Regions from separate parts of the Homo sapiens genome. Here region 2 is linked to region 1. The links come from fine-mapping of genetic effects on gene expression. A gene starts in region 1. The other region holds a variant in brackets. All regions are shown on one strand. Distances are from middle to middle. Region 1 holds the start of COPZ1 (coat protein complex I subunit zeta 1). Region 2 overlaps COPZ1 (coat protein complex I subunit zeta 1).

What was found. PIP is the estimated chance that this variant, and not a neighbour inherited with it, causes the effect. A credible set is the group of variants that fine-mapping cannot tell apart.
Region 2: its variant is the best candidate, but not a certain one, in a credible set for the expression of COPZ1 in whole blood (TOPMed, PIP 0.52).

What each region holds. Positions count from the first base shown.
Region 1 is chr12:54,320,846-54,330,414 of GRCh38, forward strand. It overlaps COPZ1 (coat protein complex I subunit zeta 1), which reads left to right and starts at 4,286. Exons shown (of 9, transcript NM_016057.3): 1 at 4,286-4,336. The coding sequence starts at 4,319. RefSeq lists enhancers at 8,346-9,036, 9,037-9,569.
Region 2 is chr12:54,341,044-54,350,409 of GRCh38, forward strand. COPZ1 (coat protein complex I subunit zeta 1) reads left to right here. Exons shown (of 9, transcript NM_016057.3): 3 at 1,163-1,244; 4 at 2,182-2,273; 5 at 4,417-4,472; 6 at 6,724-6,801; 7 at 6,957-7,008; 8 at 8,577-8,615. It also overlaps the pseudogene RN7SL744P. Among named protein-coding and RNA genes, the nearest start is that of GPR84-AS1, 8.0 kb to the right of the region's middle. The variant G/A (reference allele first, on the strand shown) is at 5,387.

The sequences.
Region 1 (9,569 bases):
GGAGTTCGAGACCAGCCTGACCAACATGGAGAAACCCCGTCTCTACTAAAAAAATACAAAATTAGCTGGGCCTGGTGGCACAAGCCTGTAATCCCAGCTACTCGGGAGGCTGAGGCAGGAGAATCACTTGAACCCTGGGAAGCAGAGGTTGCGGTGAGCCGACAGTGTGCCATTGCACTCCAGCCTGGGCAACAAGAGCGAGACTCCATCTCCAAAAAAAAAAAAGTTAGCTAGGGCCCTAGAAAGCTCTGGTCTGAACCTCTCCCCTTTCCAGAAGTGACAGCTATAGTCCATCCAGAGAGGGTACAGAGACTTGCAGAGTTCTCTCACTGATTAAAGCAAAGTCACAACAATAACTAATGTCTCTAATTCAGTCAATTGTCTTCCTCCCACAGCACAATTACCCCAACAGGCTGGAGAGCTAAGAATCAAGCGATCTTCTGCAACAATATCTGACTTAAAATTTGTCAGTTACTACACAGAAAAAGGAGCCAACCATCCCCATGAACCAACCATACCACACTTTTTCCTCCTTATGGTCCTTGTAGAATATCTGGCACTGAGGTAGAGTCCTTGAGGTAGGACTGGGATGCAAGAGAGGCAGTACAACAAACTAGAGGAGTGGACTGTGGGTAAGAACATGGTTTAGAGTCTCCTGTGCTCAAACGTATGGCTGCTAAAACAGTTCTGTAGCCTTAAGTAAATTATTTAACTGCTCTAAACTCCATGTTGCTCATCTGTAAAATGGGTTTAATAATCATCTACTTCGTAAGGATTTTTTATTTTATTTGTTTTTTTTGAGACGGAGTCTCACTCTGTCACCCAGGCTGGAGTGTAGCATGCAATGTCGGCTACTGCAACCTCTGCCCTCTGAGTTCAAGCGATTCTCCTGCCTCAGCCTACCAAGTAGCTGGGATTTCAGGTGCCTGCCACCGCGCCCGGCTAATTTTTTGTATTTTTAGTAGAGACGGGGTTTCACCATCTTGGCCAGGCTGGTCTTAAACTCCTGACCTCGTGATCCACCCGCCTCGGTCTCCCAAAGTGCTGAGATTGCAGGTGTGAGCCACCGCACCCGGCCAGGAATTTTTTTTTTTTTTTTTTTTGAGACAGAGTTTTGCTCTTGTTGCCCATGCTGGAGTGCAATGGCAGGATCTCGCTCATTGCAACCTCCACCTCCCGGGTTCAAGAGATTCTCCTGCCTTAGCCTCCGGAGTAGTTGGGATTACAGGCACCTGCCACCACACCTAGCTAATCTTTGTATTTTTAGTAGAGACGGGGTTTCACCATGTTGGCTAGTCTGGTCTCGAACTCCCGGCCTCAGGTGATCTGCCTGCCTCAGCCTCCCAAAGTTTTGGGATTACAGGCATGAGCCACCATGCCCAGCTACTTCATAAGGATTTTAAAAAATGTATTCAATAATGTATTTAAAGATTTAGCACCGTGCCTGGCACATAATAAGTGGGCAGTAAATGTTAGTATTACCTTTAAGCTGCAAAGCCAATGACAACCCACTGACTGTGATGCCAGGCACAGTAAATGTGTGAACAACTCTCCTTGAGGAATAAAAGGACAAGCCTTCACTTCTTCCAGATATAAGGCTTAACACCTGGTATTCCACCAGAAATTCACCTTCTGTCAGAGTACACTGTAGGTCTATAATTTGCATTGTATTGTTCAATTTTTTATTTTATCTTATTTTTATATACAGACTGGGTCTCCCTGTGTTGTCGAGGCTGGAATGCAGTGGCTATTCCCAGGCACAATCACTGCGCACTACGGCCTCGAACTCTTGGGCTCAAGCATCCTCCTGCCTCAGCCCCTGGGGTAATTGGTACTACAGGCACATGCCACAGCGCCCTTGTATTGTATTGTTTTATGTTTCCTTGATTCTACTCCGACTATTAGAAAAATTCCTGGGTGGCTGGGCCCGGTGGCTCACGCCTGTAATCCCAGCACTTTGGGAGGCCAAGGCGGGTGGATCATCTGAGGTCCGGAGTTCGAGACCAGCCTGGCCAGTATGGCGAAACCCCGTCTCTACTAAAAGTACAAAAATTAGCCAGGGGTGGCAGGCGCCTGTAATCCCAGCTACAAGGGAGGCTGAGGTGGCAGGGAGAATCGCTTGCAACCGGGAGGCGGAGGTTACAGTGAGCCAAAATCACACCACTGCACTCCAGCCTGGCGACAGAGAGAGACTCCGTCTTAAAAAAAAAAAAAAAAAAAAAAAGGCCGGGTGCAGCAGTGGCTCACGCCTGTAATCCCAGCACTCTGGGAGGCCGAGGCGGGCGGATCACGAGGTCAGGAGATGGAGACCATCCTGGCTAACACGGTGAAACCCCGTCTCTACTAAAAATACAAAAAATCAGCCAGGCGTGGTGGTGGGCGCCTGTGGTCCCAGCTACTCTGGAGGCTGAGGCAGGAGAATGGCGTGAACCCGGGAGGCGGAGCTTGCAGTGAGCCGAGATTGAGCCACTGCACTCCAGCCTGGGGGACAGAGCGAGACTCCGTCTCAAAAAAGAAAAATTCCTGGGTAAGTTTGGAATCTCTTCTTGGAGGGCTCCTAAGGATATAATTTTCAGAGATGAGGGAAAAAATCCCTTTAGGATAATTAAGGTAATAGGTGTCCCTGCCCTAAGAGGAGTCAGGGATCAGGAAACCAAGGGATAGGGGAAAGCCAAGCTTCATCAAAATCATTCCCTATTGTGAAATTCTTGCATTCAGTAAACTTCTCTTTTCTCATTTTGCAACGCCTCATTTCTTTCCTCTCCTTTCTTTCCTTCTCTTTCTTTCTTTCTTTCTTTCTTTCTTTCTTTCTTTCTTTCTTTCCTTCCTTCCTTCCTTCCTTCCTTTCTTTCTTTCTTTTCTTTCTTTCTCCTTTTCTTTTCTCTTCTCTTCTCCTTTTCTTTTCTTTTCTTTTTTTTTTGAGATGGAATTTCGCTCTTGTTGCCCAGGCTGGAGTGCAATGACGAGATCTCGCCTCACCTCAACCTCCGCCTCCCAGGTTCAAGTGAGTCTCCTGGTTCAGCCTCCCGAGTAGCTGGGATTACAGGCATGTTCCACCACGCCCGGCTAATTTTGTATATATGTATATTTTTTGAGACGGAGTCTCGCTCTGTCACCCAGGTTGGAGTGCAGTGGCGCGATCTCAGCTCACTGCAAACTCCGCCTCCTGGGTTCACGCCATTGTCCTGCCTCAGCCTCCAGAGTAGCAGGGACTACAGGCGCCCGCCACCCACGCCCGGCTAATTTTTTGTATTTTTAGTAGAGACGGGGTTTCACTATGTTAGTCAGGATGGTCTTGATCTCCTGATCTCGTGATCCGCCCGCCTCGGCCTCCCAAAGTACTGGGATTACAGGTGTGAGCCATCACGCTCGGCCTGTATTTTTTTTTTTTAGTAGAGACGGGGTTTCTCCATGTTGGTCAGGTTGGTTTCAAACTCCCGACCTCAGATGATCCGCTCGCCTCGGCCTCCCAAAGTGCTGGGATTACAGGCTTGAGCCACCGCGCCCAGGCACAACGGCTTGTTTCTATTGGAAAACCCCAGAATTTACTCCCTATAACCCCTCTCTTATTCTAATCCCATCCCTTTCCCCGTTTGTCCCGCAAACCCCATCTCCAAAGCCGATTTCACGTTGAGCTCAAGTTGGCCTTTACAAACTGACTTCTCATGTTCCTCAGGCCCAGCAAAGCCTGGAACTCCACCTTAGGGAGATTGTTATTGCGACTATCAACTCCTGGCAGCCTTGGTTTATGTAGTTAACATGTTGGGCCTTTCTTGGCTCTACTCTATGGTTGTGCAGACTTTCTGTGAGGATGCTGAAGTGACCTGAGCGAGCATGAGGGAAGGGCTAGCCACAGAGATCATGGACCTAATGCGGGCGCTGAAAATAGGGATTAGGGCAGGATTCCGGTTAGAAAGCGCCAGTGTTAAAGGCTAAGGAGACACAGCGCCCCCTAAAGAGGGTGCGGTTTAAAAATCGCTAAATCAGTCCGACAATATCACGTGTCCTCGGCCCTACCAATTGAAAATTAACAATCGCTTCTTCTGTTCCCCATGGAAACAACCCCGCCCCACTAACCCTCCCGCCCCAATGAGTCGTGAGGTTTTGGCGTTTTATTGAGTATTCAAGCTGACAATCAAACACCTGAGCCTTCTGGTTGGACACTTTGCTTCCGGTAAGCAAGCTAGTACAATAATTGGCCAATAAAGCAAGCCTTACCCAATGATCCTTATCCTAGGCGGGGCCTAATGGGAACGTATGGCCAATCAGCGGCGGCGTTTCTTTTGCGGCTCCACGTCGGCACCAGCTGCGGGGCAAGATGGAGGCGCTGATTTTGGTAGGAGCTGGAGGGGCAGCAGAGATGCTGTGGTGTCCACAGGGGCCGGGAGTCAGGGTTCAGCCCGAGTGGGAGACGGGGAAAGAGAGTTCCGGGTAATTCTTGGGGACTGAGCGTTCTGCTGACCTTTGGAATAAGTGTGTGGCCTAGTGTAGGAGCTAAAGCCTTGGTTTAGAGTAGGAAGCCCTGCCGGGGAGAGGGCATAGAGTCGGTGGAAAGTTGAAGGCAGCACATGGACTCCTTAGGATACACAGACCTGTAGGCGTACTGGATTAGGACCCTTCAGGTTGCCCCTTATTTTTAGCATTGTGGATGATACCCTGATTTTAATTTACCAAACCACCAAACTCGCCCCATATTGTAAGAAAAGAATACAGATGTTTTGTCGTTACAGACTCCTCCTGATGGTTTCCCAAGTTTGACTCTCCATTGCCGATTCCCTGCCACATTCCTTCAGGAAACTGTTTTGTCTTCGGTTTCCTGTTAATCCCTATTATATAGGTTTGTCAAATAATCAGTATTCCATCAAAGTTCTGGGATACCTGATAAAGTTAGCATGGATTGTGGAATATTTTTTCTAGACTCCTTATTCTGTTCTCCTTTTCTCTACCCATTTAGACCTTAGGAATTCTTTTTTTTTTTTTTTTTTTTTGAGACCGAGCCTTGCTCTGTCACCCAGGCTGGAGTGCGCACGTGGCGCGATCTTGGCTCACTGCAATCTCCACCTCCCGGGTTCAAGCTATTCTCTTGCCTCAGCCTCCCGCGTAGTTGGGACTATAGGCGCGTGCCACCACGCCCGGCTATTTTTTTTGTATTTTTAGTAGAGACGTGGTTTCACCATGTTGGCCAGGCTGGTTTCGAACTCCTGACCTCAAGTGATCCGCCCGCCTCGGCCTCCCAAAGTGCTAGGATTACAGGCTTGAACCACCGCGCCTGGCCAGGAATTATTATTATTATTATTATTATTATTATTTTTGAGACGGAGTCTCACTCTGTCGCCCAGGCTGGAGTGCAGTGGTACGATCTCGGCTCACTGCAAGCTCCGCCTCCCGGGTTCACGCCATTCTTCTGCCTCAGCCTCCGGAGTGGCTGGGACTACAGGCGCTCGCCACCACTCCCGGCTAATTTTTTGTATTTTTTAGTAGAGACGGAGTTTCACCGTGTTAGCCAGGATGGTCTCGATCTCCTGACCTCGTAATCCACCCGCCTCGGCCTCCCAAAGTGCTGGGATTACAGGCGTGAGCCACTGCGCCGGGCCAGGAATTCTTATTGTATGATCTAGGATGCTAATTTCTCCCTCTCTGGTTACATGAGAATTGTGGTCGCTAAAGGGCTGTATTAGCCCTCTTGTCCATATGATGCTTTATGCTTGTTCTAACAAATAAAATACCTGTTACCCCTTTTTAGAACTGGACCAGAGAATTTCTCTCAAAAGTGCCCTATTTTGCGATTTGGAGGGGTGTGTGTGTGTGTGTGTGTGTGTGTGTGTGTGTGTGTGTAGGTAGGTAGGTAGTATAGTGTAGGAATTTAACTCCCAGCCTTCTTCCTTAATTGGCTTGAACTCTAGGCCTCTTTCCAAAGAAGCTTGTCTTTTATTTTCCTTCAGATCTCCTAAGCATACACATTCAGATCCTCATCAGATAAAAGAATAACAGGTTTTAATTCCTCTCTTTCAGTTAAAGACAGTTAATTCCTTATGTCGGTTGGTCAAATATAGGTAAAAAGCTTAAAATCTGAGTAGTTTTAAATATTTTCTGTACCAAGCAGTTAACAAGTATTCTTTTTTTTTTTTTTTTTTTTTTTTTTTTTTTTTTTTTGAGATAGAGTCTGGCTGTGTTGCCCAGGCTGGGGTGCAGTGGTGCAATCTTGGCTCACTGCAACCTCCGCCTCCCAGAATCAAGCAATTCTCATGCCTCAGCTTCCTGAGTAGCTGGGGTTACAGGCACGCGCCACCATGCCCAGCTAATTTTTGTATTTTTAGTAGAAACAGGGTTTCTCCATGTTTGCCAGGCTGGTCTAGTCTTGAACTCCTGACCTCAAGTGATCTGCCTGCCTTGGCCTCCCAAAGTGCTGGGATTACAGGTGTGAGTCACTGCACCCCGGCCAGTTAGCAAGTTTTTTTTTTTTTTTTTGGAAACAGAGTCTCGCTGTGTCACCCAGGCTGGAGTGCAGTGGTGTGATCTCACCTCACTGCAACCTCTGCCTCCTGGGTTGAAGCAATTTCTCCTGCCTCAGCCTCACGAGTAGCTGGGACTACAGGCACGTGCTGCCACACCTGGCTAACTTTTTTGTATTTTAGTAGAGACGGTTTCACTGTGTTGCCCAGGCTGGTCTTGAACTCTTGAGCTCAGGCAATCCACCTGCCTCAGCCTCCCAAAGTGCTAGGATTATAGGAGTGAGCCACCGTGCCCGGCAGCAAGTATTCTTAATCAAGAGGTTGAGTGCAGTGGCTCATGCCTGTAATCCCAGCACTGTAAGAGGCTGAGGCAGGAGGATCGCTTGAGCCTGGGAGTTTGAGGCTGCAGTGAGCTATGATTGTGCCACTGCACTCCAGCATGGGTGACAAAGCCAGACCCTGTCTCTAAAAAAATAAGAATAAAAAACCTCCCCCTAAACCCAATTAGCAGACTAGGATAGATTCTAGGGAATTGGTTTTTTTGGAAGTTTTTAGACTTACCTATATATGTTTAGAAGGGAGCCTGCTTAAAGGTAAAGGAATGAGGAAGATAATAATTGGGGAGCCCTTTTAACAATGGGCCTGTGTGTAGTGGGTAAGCTGGGGGAGTTATATGTGAAAGTATCTCTGTCGGGCGCAGTGCAGTGGCTCATGCCTGTAATCCTAGCACTTTGGGAGGCTGAGGTGGGCGGATCACTTGAGGTCAGGAGTTCGAAACCAGCCTGGCCAACATGGTGAAACCATGTCTCTACTAAAAATACAAAAAAAAATAGCTGGGCGTGGTGGCACGAGCCTATAGTCCCAACTACTCAGGAGGCTGAGGCAGGAGAATCACTTGAGCCAGGGAGGCAGAGGTTGCAGTGAGCCGAGATCGCGCCACTGCACTCCAGCCCAGGCGACAGTGTTAGACTCCATCTCAAAAAAAAAAAAAAGGCCGGGCACGGTGGCTCACGCCTGTAAATCCAGCACTTTGGGAGGCCGAGGTGGGCGGATCACGAGGTCAGGAGTTGGAGACCAGCCTGACCAACATGGTGAAACCCGGTCTCTGCTAAAAATACAAAACTTAGCTGGGCGTGGCCACGCCTGTAATCCCAGCTACTCAGGAAGCTGAGGCAAGAGAATCACTTGAACCTGGGAGGCAGAGGTCGCGGTGAGCCGAGATGCGCCACTGCACTCCAGCCTGGGTGACAGAGCAAGGCTCTGTCTCAGAAAAGTTAAAGAAAAAGAAAGTCTCTCTGTCACATTTCTCTTCCCTTAGTTCTCTGTCTCTGCTTCTTCAGTGAAGTCTGTTTCAGCCTGCTTCTTCCTTATTCTTTTGCTTTAATCTATGCCTAATAGGCTGCATTCACAGATCCCTGCTAACTTGATCAGGTAACCCTGGACTTTGCTTTTAAAACCACACTGGTTCTTTGTTATGGGAAACCTATGTAATGCGGTTAGGGACAATCTGATCAAAGCATATTCTTCTGTCCTTAACTCTACAAGGTACATACATAGCTGCAGGATGTCGAGAAAAAGGGACAGGTAAGCTACAGGGGGTCAAGAAGAACTGTTGATCAAAGTTTGCATTGATTGTGGAATTTCTAAATAACAGTAAGTTCCCTTCTTTTAGGTACTTTACAGTGGGTCACATGGTCACATTTCTTTCTTGAATTAAGTAATCCAGCTCTAGCTTTCAAGCAGATTTGTCTAATCTCTCTCAGGTCTCCTTAGGCTCTAAGGAAAGAGACCCTTTCATCTCTTTTAGTTCCCAATGCTTAATAATAGTGATCTCAGCCTGCATCTTTGGACTTGGCTTCTTCTCTCTTGCTGTATCTGCTGGTTCTCGCTTTTTGAGTTGTGAATGAAGAGGATCTCTGCAGATCACCATTCTCCATTAATAACCTGTGGAATCTTAAAGATAAGGATTTCCCCTTCCTCCTTCCTGCTTTACTTTTTTTCTTTAAAGCTGAATTACTCGGGCCGGGCTCGGTGGCTCACACCTGTAATCCTGAGGTGAGTGGATCACCTGAGGTCAGGAGTTCAAGACCAGCCTGACCAACATGGTGAAACCCGTCTCTGCTAAAAATACAAAAATTAGCTGGGCGTGGTGGCATGCGCTTGTAATCCCCAGCTACACGGGAGACTGAGGCAGGAGAATCGCTTGAACCTGGGAGGCGGAGGTTGCAGTGAGCCGAGGGCCATTGCACTCCAGCCTGGGCAAAAAGTGAAACTCTGTCTTAAAAAACAAACAAAACTGAATTCTGTATCGGTTTAGATCTTTAAATCTTTGTTCATAGGTTTTATTTTTCCTAATCCTCTCTGGATTCACTTTCAGAGTGCTTCTCCAGTGCTTTACAGACTAGACTTCTAATTCTGTACTTTGTCTTACCTTAATATTTTAAAACCATAACCAAATCCTAAATTCTAAGCCTCATTAAAAAATCAGGCCATCCAAAGTGCACAAGGATATGAGTATGTATGGAGGAGGAAACTATGCAGAATATGTCAATGACTTTAAAGGTTGATGTTGCTCCTTGGCCTTTGCTTCCTGAATCATCTTAATGGGGCTTTTGTTAAATTCCTTTGGCCCTAACAGTAGAGGTACTTGGCCTAAATGCCCCCCTCCCCCTGCTCTGGGCAAAGGTATCAATTACATTAAGCCCCTAAAGCACTCCCATCTCGTTCCTGGCAGTCCCCTGTGCCCCTCTCCCAGCTGCGTCCTTGCTGGTGCCTGGCCCCCTCCATTTTGTTAGGAGAAGCAATCTCCTCATTCCTGCGCTGTGGAGATATATTTCTCAGCTAGGGCGCGAGCAGTGCCAGCACTGCCCCCGGTGAGGTCCCTGGCAGCAATAAAAATTTTTATTGTGATTATGTTGGTGTCGGGGTGTCCATCTGGGTTATTGCACACCTAGTTTAATTGATTGAAGTTTAATTTATTGACACTTCAAATTAAATGATCAGAATAAACTGTGCTGTTACTCTGGCCAGCTTGTTTTAATGGTTGATTGCTGGAAGCAGACCTCGGCTTGAACTAAAACCCCCAAAGAGCAATTGACGCTGCTTCTAACTCTCCCC
Region 2 (9,366 bases), 20 kb after region 1:
TCTTTTGTCCCTTAGTTGTACTGCTGCCCTGCTTGCTGTCCTCAGACTTTGACCTCCTTTGTTGTCAGCATCAGATCAGGGAAAAGCTTTGAAACTTTGGTTCCTAACAAAGCAGTATGTAGATGCTAAGAGGCAGTCCGCCCATGTCCATCATTCCTGTCCCCTTCCCTCATACCATGTCACCCTGCCTGGGTTTTTCCAGAGAATTGTCTTGCAGTTCCAGGTTTCCATTCCTAGGTTTATAGTCACCATCAAGCTTGTTACCTCCTGACTTTCCCAGAGTGATGTTTCCAACTTTAGATCTGTTGGAAGAAAGAAGAAAGGACACCCTCTCTCCCTCCATATTCTCCCCCTCCTGTAGAAATTTCTTCTGTCCCTGGTGTATTAACTCCGGGCGAGCGTAGCATAAATCAATCAGCAGGTAGAGATTAGTTTAGAATTCACCAGCTGTTCCTCCCTGTAATTGGATGTAACTATGCAGGACACCTTTTGAAACAGTTATCCAGTTACTAAATGCCAGACCTGTCATGGGTCTTCAGCTGACTGCGACGGATTAGCCCCTAAAGAGCTAGCGATTTAGCAGCCTGCATCTCCGCCCCCTTTGCCAGGGAGAGCCTGGGAATGGGCTCAGTGGTATGCTGGATGCTTCTTTCAGCTTGCAGAAAAGAAAGCTAAGATAGATCATAGGGCAGGGTTTGCCTTTCTTTGGAGGAGGTTTTTGTAGCCTTTCCCCATTCCTCAGCTTCATACAGTGAGTGAGGGTCTATGGAAGTGTTCTGTGCTTCTAGTGTTTTTTGTGTTCTCTGGCACTGCTTCCTGACATGGGGTAGCTCCTAGGAAACACTTGATGAGAATGGTTTTAGGAGAGGTCTAGATTGCAGACAGCTGCAGAGCCTCACTGTAGGGCTGGTAGGCTTCTGCCTTCAGACAGTCTTGGAAATGTGAGGTGGGGTTGCTTATGGCAGGGTCTTTTATTTATTTTTCTTGGATTACTCACTGCCCATTCTCTGCCTCTACAATCCTTCCTTTTCCATGTCAGTATTTCTCCCTTGCCCCATGCCTTGAAGGAGAGAAATCCAAGATCCCAGGGCAAAACATAGTCACTAATCATTCTGGCTTCCAGCTCTAGTGACCCAACCCTGTCTTCTTTCCCTCTGACCAGTACTATGACGACACCTACCCCAGTGTCAAGGAGCAAAAGGCCTTTGAGAAGAACATTTTCAACAAGACCCATCGGACTGACAGTAGGTCATTTTCCTTTCACTACTACCCGTGCTGGGGGGAACCATGGTGGAAAGGGGGTGGTAACAGGGCTGCAGAGAAAGGATGAAATGACTCTGCCTTTTTCTTTTTTTTTCCTTCTTCCCCTTGTATAATAAACTCTTCAGAATGTAATGGGGAGGTGAGTGTACCTCACGCGGGAATACCATGCTGGAAGGTTGGCTGTTAGCTACCTGTCTAGTCCCTGGATTTATGAGCCTCACTTGACAAATTTAATTGCAGCTCTGCTTATTGTACCGCATCCATTAGGGCAGGTAAATGGAAGTCTGTAAAGGTGACCGCTCTGCATTTTCACCTCCGAAGGATCGACTAGTATCCTGTCTCATATACAAGTAGGGAAATAGGTATAGTGGGCAGGAACAGAGGATGGTGGTTACAGAAGATACATTTAGACTCCCCCAAGTTCATACTTCTCTTCTCCTGCCACCACCCAAAAAGTGCAGATCATCTTCTGGCTTTGGAAGTCATTACAGGCGGCCTCACCTTAGCCCAAAAGAGCTGGATACTAGGAATTCATGGTAACGCCTTCTTTTTTTTTTTTTTTTTTTTTGAGACAGAGTCTCTCTCTGTCACCCAGGCTGGAGTACAGTGGCGAGATCTCGGCTCCCTGCAACCTCCGCCTCCCAGGTTCAAGTGGTTCTCCCATCTCACCCTCCTGAGTAGCAGGGATTACAGGTGCACACCACCACGCCCGGCTAATTTTTGTATTTTTAGTAGAGACGGGGTTTCACTGTGTTGGCCAGGCTGGTCTTGAACTCCTGACCTTAGGTGATCCGCCAGGCTCGGCTTCCCAAGGTGCTGGGATTACAGGCATGAGCCACTGCGCCTGGCTGGTAACTCCTTCTTTCCTACTTCCTTATCTCAAGCCACCCACTATTTTTACTTTTTTTCCCCCACCAGGTGAAATTGCCCTCTTGGAAGGCCTGACAGTGGTATACAAAAGCAGTATAGATCTCTATTTCTATGTGATTGGCAGCTCCTATGAAAATGAGGTGAGAATCCCCACCCCTCTTTGCTATTTCTGATCCTACTTTCTAAACCACAGGCAGTACATAGCCACTGGTTTGGGGCCCTAATAGAGCCGTGTTCCTCTGGCTTCTGACCAAGCTAATGAAGTTGTCAGAGATCCCACCAGCCTCACAAACATGGCCCGGCAAATGAATCGCCTAGAAAGGAAGTTTTCCTAGATTAATCTTTTGCATCCATTAGGAAACATCATATATGTTTTAATACCTTTCCCTGAGTAGTGTTTTTTAAGATGGATTTCTGAGGTATGGTCAAGACTGCAGGGGGATACTTGCTTCTTCTATGAAGGGTCCATACCTGACTGAGTTTGAGCCAATTAGCTAACAACCTGGGTCATGTTGAAACCATACATTCTGAATGGATCACTGGAGAAGACCTTGGGTATAGTCCTAACCTGCTTCCTATATGCAGGAAAAGCTGTTTGCCTCAGATAGCAACTTCTAGGAGAATAGATAAATAAAAATAAGCCCCCAGATAATTTGAGGCAAAAGTGAAAGTTTGAGAAAGTCAACTCTTACTGAGCTCTTATTATTGGTATAAGTGCTTTGTAAAGTATATTGTTATTTAAACCTCATAGCACTTCTATGAGTTGTAGGCATTGGTGCCTTTGTTTTACAAATGAGGAAACCAAACCATGAAGAACTATATGAAATTACTTGTATGTGACCATTGAGAAAAGTACAAAAGTGGCAGTTATCTGATGTGGTTCAACCTAGTAACTTTCTCAGGGTCACACATGTAGAAAATGGCTCAGCTTGGATTCCAACCCATATCTGTCTGACTTAAAGTCCATGCTTTTTAAAAAATTTTGAGACATAGGCCGAACGTGGTGGCTCACACCTGTAATCCCAGCACTTTGGGAGGCCAAGGTGGGCGGATCACTTGAGGTCAGGAGTTCGCGACCAGGCTGGCCAACATGGCGAAATCCCATCTCTACTAAAAATACAGGCCAGGCATGGTGGCTCACACCTGTAATCCCAGCACTTTGGGAGGCCGAGGCAGGCGGATCACGAAGTCAGGAGATTGAGACCATCCTGGCTAACACAGTGAAACCCCATGTCTACTAAAAATGCAAAAAATTAGCTGGGCGTGGTGCGGGCACCTGTAGTCCCAGCTACTCGGGAGGTTGAGGCAGGAGAATGGCATGAACCTGGGAGGCGGAGGTTGCAGTGAGCCGAGATCATACCACTGCATTCCAGCCTGGGCAACAGAGCGAGACTCCGTCTCAAACAAACAAACAACAACAACAACAAAAATTAGCTGGGCGTGGTGGTGGGCGCCTGTAATCCCAGCTACTTGGGAGGCTGAGGCAAGAGAATTGCTTGAACCTGGGAGGTGGAGGTTGCAGTGAGCTGAGATTGCGCCATTGCACTCCAGCCTGGGTGACAGAGCCAGACTCTCAAAAAAAAAAAAAAAATTTGAGACAGGGTCTTGTTCTGTCTCCCAGGCTGGACTGCAGTGGTGCGATCTTGGCTCACTGCAACCTCTGGCTCCCAGGCTCAAGTGATTCTACCACCTTAGCCTCCCAAGTAGCTGGGACTGCAGGTGCCCACCACCATGCCTGGCTAATTTTTTTTTGTATTGTTTGTAGACAGGGTTTTGCCATGTTGCCCAGGCTGGTCTCAACTCCTGAGCTCAAGCAATCGGCCTGCTGCAGCCTCCGAAAGTGCTGGGATAGAGTCAGAGTCTAGACAGGGTCTAGACGTTACAGGTGTGACCCACTGTGCCCAGCCAATTAAAGTCCATGCTTTTTACACTAACTCTGAAGCCTTCCTCTGACCTCAGCTATTGCTTGGTTAGTAATTTCTCTACCTAAGACATCAGGTAACACATATACAGTTGGTGAAGACATTGTAGAGGACTGTGACAGGGAAGTTCTGTTTAAACTTTTGGCTAAAAGATGTTGAATTGTGGAATCATGTAGCAGAATTTATTTCTGTGAGAAATCACAGATCCTTTTCCTGTTGTGCTCTCACTTCCACTTTATGTTTTTGGTCCTTTGTGAAAGCCTGTGTCTTTTGATGTTTAATGAATTAGGAGGTTTTGTTTTTAGGTAGCAGCTTTCAGGGCCTTGAACCTTATCCTTCTGCCTCCTCTGTTTCCCAACAGCTGATGCTTATGGCTGTTCTGAACTGTCTCTTCGACTCATTGAGCCAGATGCTGAGGTGAGCAGGACATTCTTTTTTTTCCCCTCAAGTTATGATGGAAAGAGCAGGGCATTGTTGATTTCTTTTTGGGAGATAAAGTAACCATTCTTCAGGCCCAGGGATTGTAGGGGATTGGCAAAGGCTCCAGGGAGTTGATTTAGTTTTAGAAGTTGGGTTTTGCCGGGCTCAGTGGCTCACGTTCGTAATCCCAGTACTTTGGGAGGCCAAGGCGGGCGGATCATGAGGTCAGGAGATTGAGACCATCCTGGTTAACATGGGGAAACCCTGTCTCCACTAAAAATACAAAAAATTAGCCGGGCATGGTAGCGGGCGCCTGTAGTCCCAGGTGCTTGGGAGGCTGAGGCAGGCGAATGGCATGAACCTGGGAGGCGGAGCTTGCAGTGAGCCGAGATCGCGCCACTGCACTCCAGCCTTGGCGACAGAGTGAGACTCTGTCTCAAAAAAAAAAAAAAAAGTTGGGTTTATTAATTCACAGTAATTCATGCTACTGGGGAGGACTGGATGGAGAGTATGTCCCTCCCATAGAATAATTCTCTTACTAAGTAAGGGGACTGGGAGGGAGCCGAATCTTTACCTCTGTGTTTACTCTTGTAATCCCCTGTGGTCCTGTCAGATCTGAGCATCCTCAAGGTGCTTTCCTGGGCTTCATTCTTGACATTAGAAGTAGGGAAAGGCCAAGCATAAGGAAGTGTCCCAGATGAAATGTCATTCAGTACTTCAGGAATGGAAGCAACACTCCCAATTTTTTTTTCTTTTTTTTTTTTTTTGAGATGGAGTCTCACTCTGTCACCCAGGCTGGAGTGCAGTGGCGTGATCTCGGCTCACTGCAACCTCTGCCTCCCAGGTTCAAGCGATTCTCCTGCCTCAGCCTCCCGAGTAGAGTAGCTGCAATTATAGGCACGTGCCACCAC[G/A]CCTGGCTAATTTTTGTATTTTTAGTGGAGACAGGGTTTTACCATGTTGGCCAGGCTGGTCTTGAACTCCTGACCTCAAATGATCCACCTACCTTGGCCTCCCAAAGTGCTGGGATTATAGGCATGAGCCACTTAGACCAGTTTTTTTTTGACTTCTAGTCCTTGTTTTTTCCCTTCTGTAGAACAGGAAGCACCCAGGCAGGAGGACTGCATGAGTCGAGTTCAAGACAAGCTTGGGCAACACAGTGAGACCCTGTCTCTGCAAAAAATAAAAAAATTAGCCAGGTGTGGTGGTGCATACCTGTAGTCTCAGCTACTTGGGAGGCTGAGGTAGGAAGATTGCTTGAGCCCAGGAGGTTGAGGCTGCAGTGAGCTGTGATCATGCTACTGCACTCCAGCCTAGGTGACATAGCAAGACCCTGTCTCAAAAAACAAAACAAAACAAAAAACAGGAAGCTTCTGCCATTTACCCTCTCCTCCCTTTCCACCTTCCCACTAGCCCTCTGTTCTCTGTTACCCGTGTAGATGGGTAATAGAAGAGATATAAGTTACTTTTCCTGAAAACATCCAGGGCTCTGAACTTCATTCCCCCAGCAGCTCCCAAGTGAACCCAGTACAGACAGCCATCCAGACCAGAACAGCAGGCACTCTCAGCCCTGCAAAATCAGCAGGGTGAATGGCTCAGATTTCCTCAGGAAGGGGATGATTTATTTCTTATCCAGGTGAATGAATAGTAATTCATTCGGGTAATCTAGTGAAAGACTCAAACTGACAGATGTGACAGGCCACATGCACCAACCAACGGATCTGAGGCTGGTGTATGCAGACCCTGCCCCCTCTTTGGGCTTCTTTTCAGGGCCTGAGCAGAGCTGGTAAGGGATAGGGAGAAGAGGGAACAGAGAATGTCTCAGGAGGTTTGTCAGAGCTTGAGTACAAATAAGGTTTGCATTGAACCCCTCTCACCTCCGGCCACCTCCAGACTGAGTCTTAGCTCTGTTTATATTGTTTTTTTCCACCCACTGATGTCAGTGTTTATGAGCAATGTTATGAGCAGCATCATGGCAGGTAGGAAAGAAATAATAGCGTGGATAATCAACCCCTGAATAGTCAGAAATTGACTGTGTTATTTGAATCTCTTTCCATACATTCCTTATTCAGCAAACGAGTAGAAAGGGGTTTTGAGTGAACTAGCTAAAAAGTTCTTCACCTTATTTACTTCTTTGTGTGGTTGGTGGAGATGTTTATTGGTCTAGTTTAGGTTCCTCAATTGAGACAAGGTCCTAGGATTTCTTTCACATACAAGTTGGTTATTCTCTTCTCTTCTCTTGGGGACTCAGGAAAAATGTAGAAAAGCGAGCACTGCTGGAGAACATGGAGGGGCTGTTCTTGGCTGTGGATGAAATTGTAGATGGAGGGTAAGTTCTCTGACCTGCCTTGATCTTGGGTGAGGTGGCGGGATAACTGCCCCTGTCCTAAGTCAAGCAGGCTCAGTGGCCAGAGGTCCTGTTCCCCGACAGTGAGTTGGGCCTTCGGGACAGAGTGAACAATGATCTCTTCTTTGTTTTTGCAGGGTGATCCTAGAGAGTGATCCCCAGCAGGTGGTACACCGGGTGGCATTAAGGGTAAGCAAGAATGTGTTTCTTTGCATCCCCGCATCTATTCACAAACACCCTCCAGAGCCAGACCTGCTGGATGTGTCCAGTAGTTGGGGCTCATAGGATACATACAACCTTCTCTTTTTCTTTCAAATACATTCAGCCTTTCTCTTCCCTTCTCTTCTTATTGTCCCAAAGAAAGAAGCAGAAATAACTTATTTCTACCCCTAATATGGTGCCTAACATCTCATACAGTCTTTGCACAAAGTGGACATTTAATACATACTTATTTAATAAATGATAAAATAAACTTTAATATTTATGGTTTTGAAATTATAAAGCAACTTGAAGTTGGCTTATTCCCTTCTTGGAGATGGATCCAGTCATCTGAGGCAGAGGAGTGTCTGTTTTGTCTTTTAAAGTGTTACATAGGACTGAGCGTGGTGGCTCACACCTGTAATCCCAGCACTTTGGGAAGCCGAGGCTGGCGGATCACAAGGTCAGGAGTTCGAGACCAGCCTGACCAACATGGTGAAACCCTGTCTCTACTAAAGACACAAAAATTAGCTGGGCATGGTGGTGCGTGCCTGTGATCCCAGCTACTCAGGAGGCTAAGGCAGGAGAATTGCTTGAGCCCGGGAGGTGGAGGTTGCAGTGAGCCGAGATTGCACCACTGCACTCCAGCCTGGGCGACAGAGTGAGACTCTGTCTCAAAAAAAATAAATAAATAAAATAATAATAATAAAGTGTTACATAACTGAGGATGGTACCTCTCCATTAGGAAGTACTTATTTGCCAGAACCTCAGTCCTCTTTGGTGCTGGTGATATCAGAAAGGGGCCTCTGAGTTAACCATAGAAGGCCCCAGGTCAGCTGAGGAGATAATGGTGGATGCAGAGAGAGCCCACCAACAAATTATACGGGTGCAAAGATGTCTGAGCAAAGCAAATCTCCCCATTCACAGAATGTCCTGGCTCTGACCTCCACAGAGTGAAGGCTGACAGTGCTTGGTAATGGGAAATCTCTCTTAACTGCTGTGGGCTCCATTTGCATAGTTTAATCTTCTCCTCTAACATATGTCTCTGTGTGGCAAGAGAGAGGGTCCCCCCCATCAACTCCCCGCTTTGTCTTCTTAGGCTGCTGTTGCAGCAGTTTATTTCTTCAAATTAACATGCTGTCGTTACCCATCAGGCTTTGCGGGATCCATTAAACCACTCCTGGCTCCCCCTCATCCTTTCCCTAGTGATACTGATATTCAGAAAAGGCCTTTTCTGACTAGGGAATCAGGTCCTCCACCCCCACGTTAAGGGAGTTGAGGATCAGATAACCTGCTGGTTACTCTGAATGGAGTTAAATCTTTTAAGAAGTCCTCCTGCCTTAAAATGGAAGCTGGATGAAATGACCCTTTTTTGTTCATAGTCCCTCTGGCCAAGTAAAATTGTAGCTGTACTAGTCCCTAGAAGGGACTGAGAAGTTCAGTGCATCTGCCCTTTGTTTCAGTTTAAAGGATCACTTTTTTCTTCTCTAATACCAGACTCCAATCAGGTCTTACTCCAGCTTTCTCCCACACTAAATGCTTGTATCTCTGTGCCATAGGGTGAAGATGTCCCCCTTACGGAGCAGACCGTGTCTCAGGTATGACTCTCCCTTCTTCCTTTCCAGATGGACTGGGTCACTAAAGAGGCTAGAACAGCATTCCACCCATACCTCTCAAATCTGAGTGAAACTAGAGACTCAAGACACATCTTCCTTGGCTCCCTCTTATTCCAGAGAACTGGGACTCATACAGCCAGCCACTCCCTACCCCTACTTCCAACTCCTTTCTCAGTTACCTGTGAGCAGTGGCTGTCAGCCTTGCTCTGTACCCTTCAAACCCTCCCTGCCTGCCTGATGCCTCATTCAGTGATTTATTCCCCAGCAGAGGCTTGCCTTAAGCAGATGGTCTGTGTGCATTTGTGCACACACACTCTCTTTCTCTTATTATTCAATTGAGGGCTAAGCTGGAAATGCATATTCTAGAATATGCAGGTTTTGCAGATCCATCTTGCTACCTTGACTGCAGATAGATTGTCTACCTGATGTAGGGGGAAGGGAGGGGTTCCGTTTTCTACCCACTTGGAATTCTCACCAAGAAGTCCATCTGGATTTGTTACCCGCCCCCTGCCCGCCGCCCCTTTTAACATATGTCCAGTAACTCCCTTTTTTTTTTTCTTTTATACCAGGTATACCTCTTCTCTCTTCATCCCCTCAGTGGGTTTGAATTTTTTTGGAATTTTCCAAACAATCTGCTAGGGCCTTAGAGAGCTTCTTCCCATCTCTTTACCCTTGGGGATTTTCTATTCTCCATTCTTCTAAGGACAGGGAAGACAAGTGAGGGGAAGGAGAT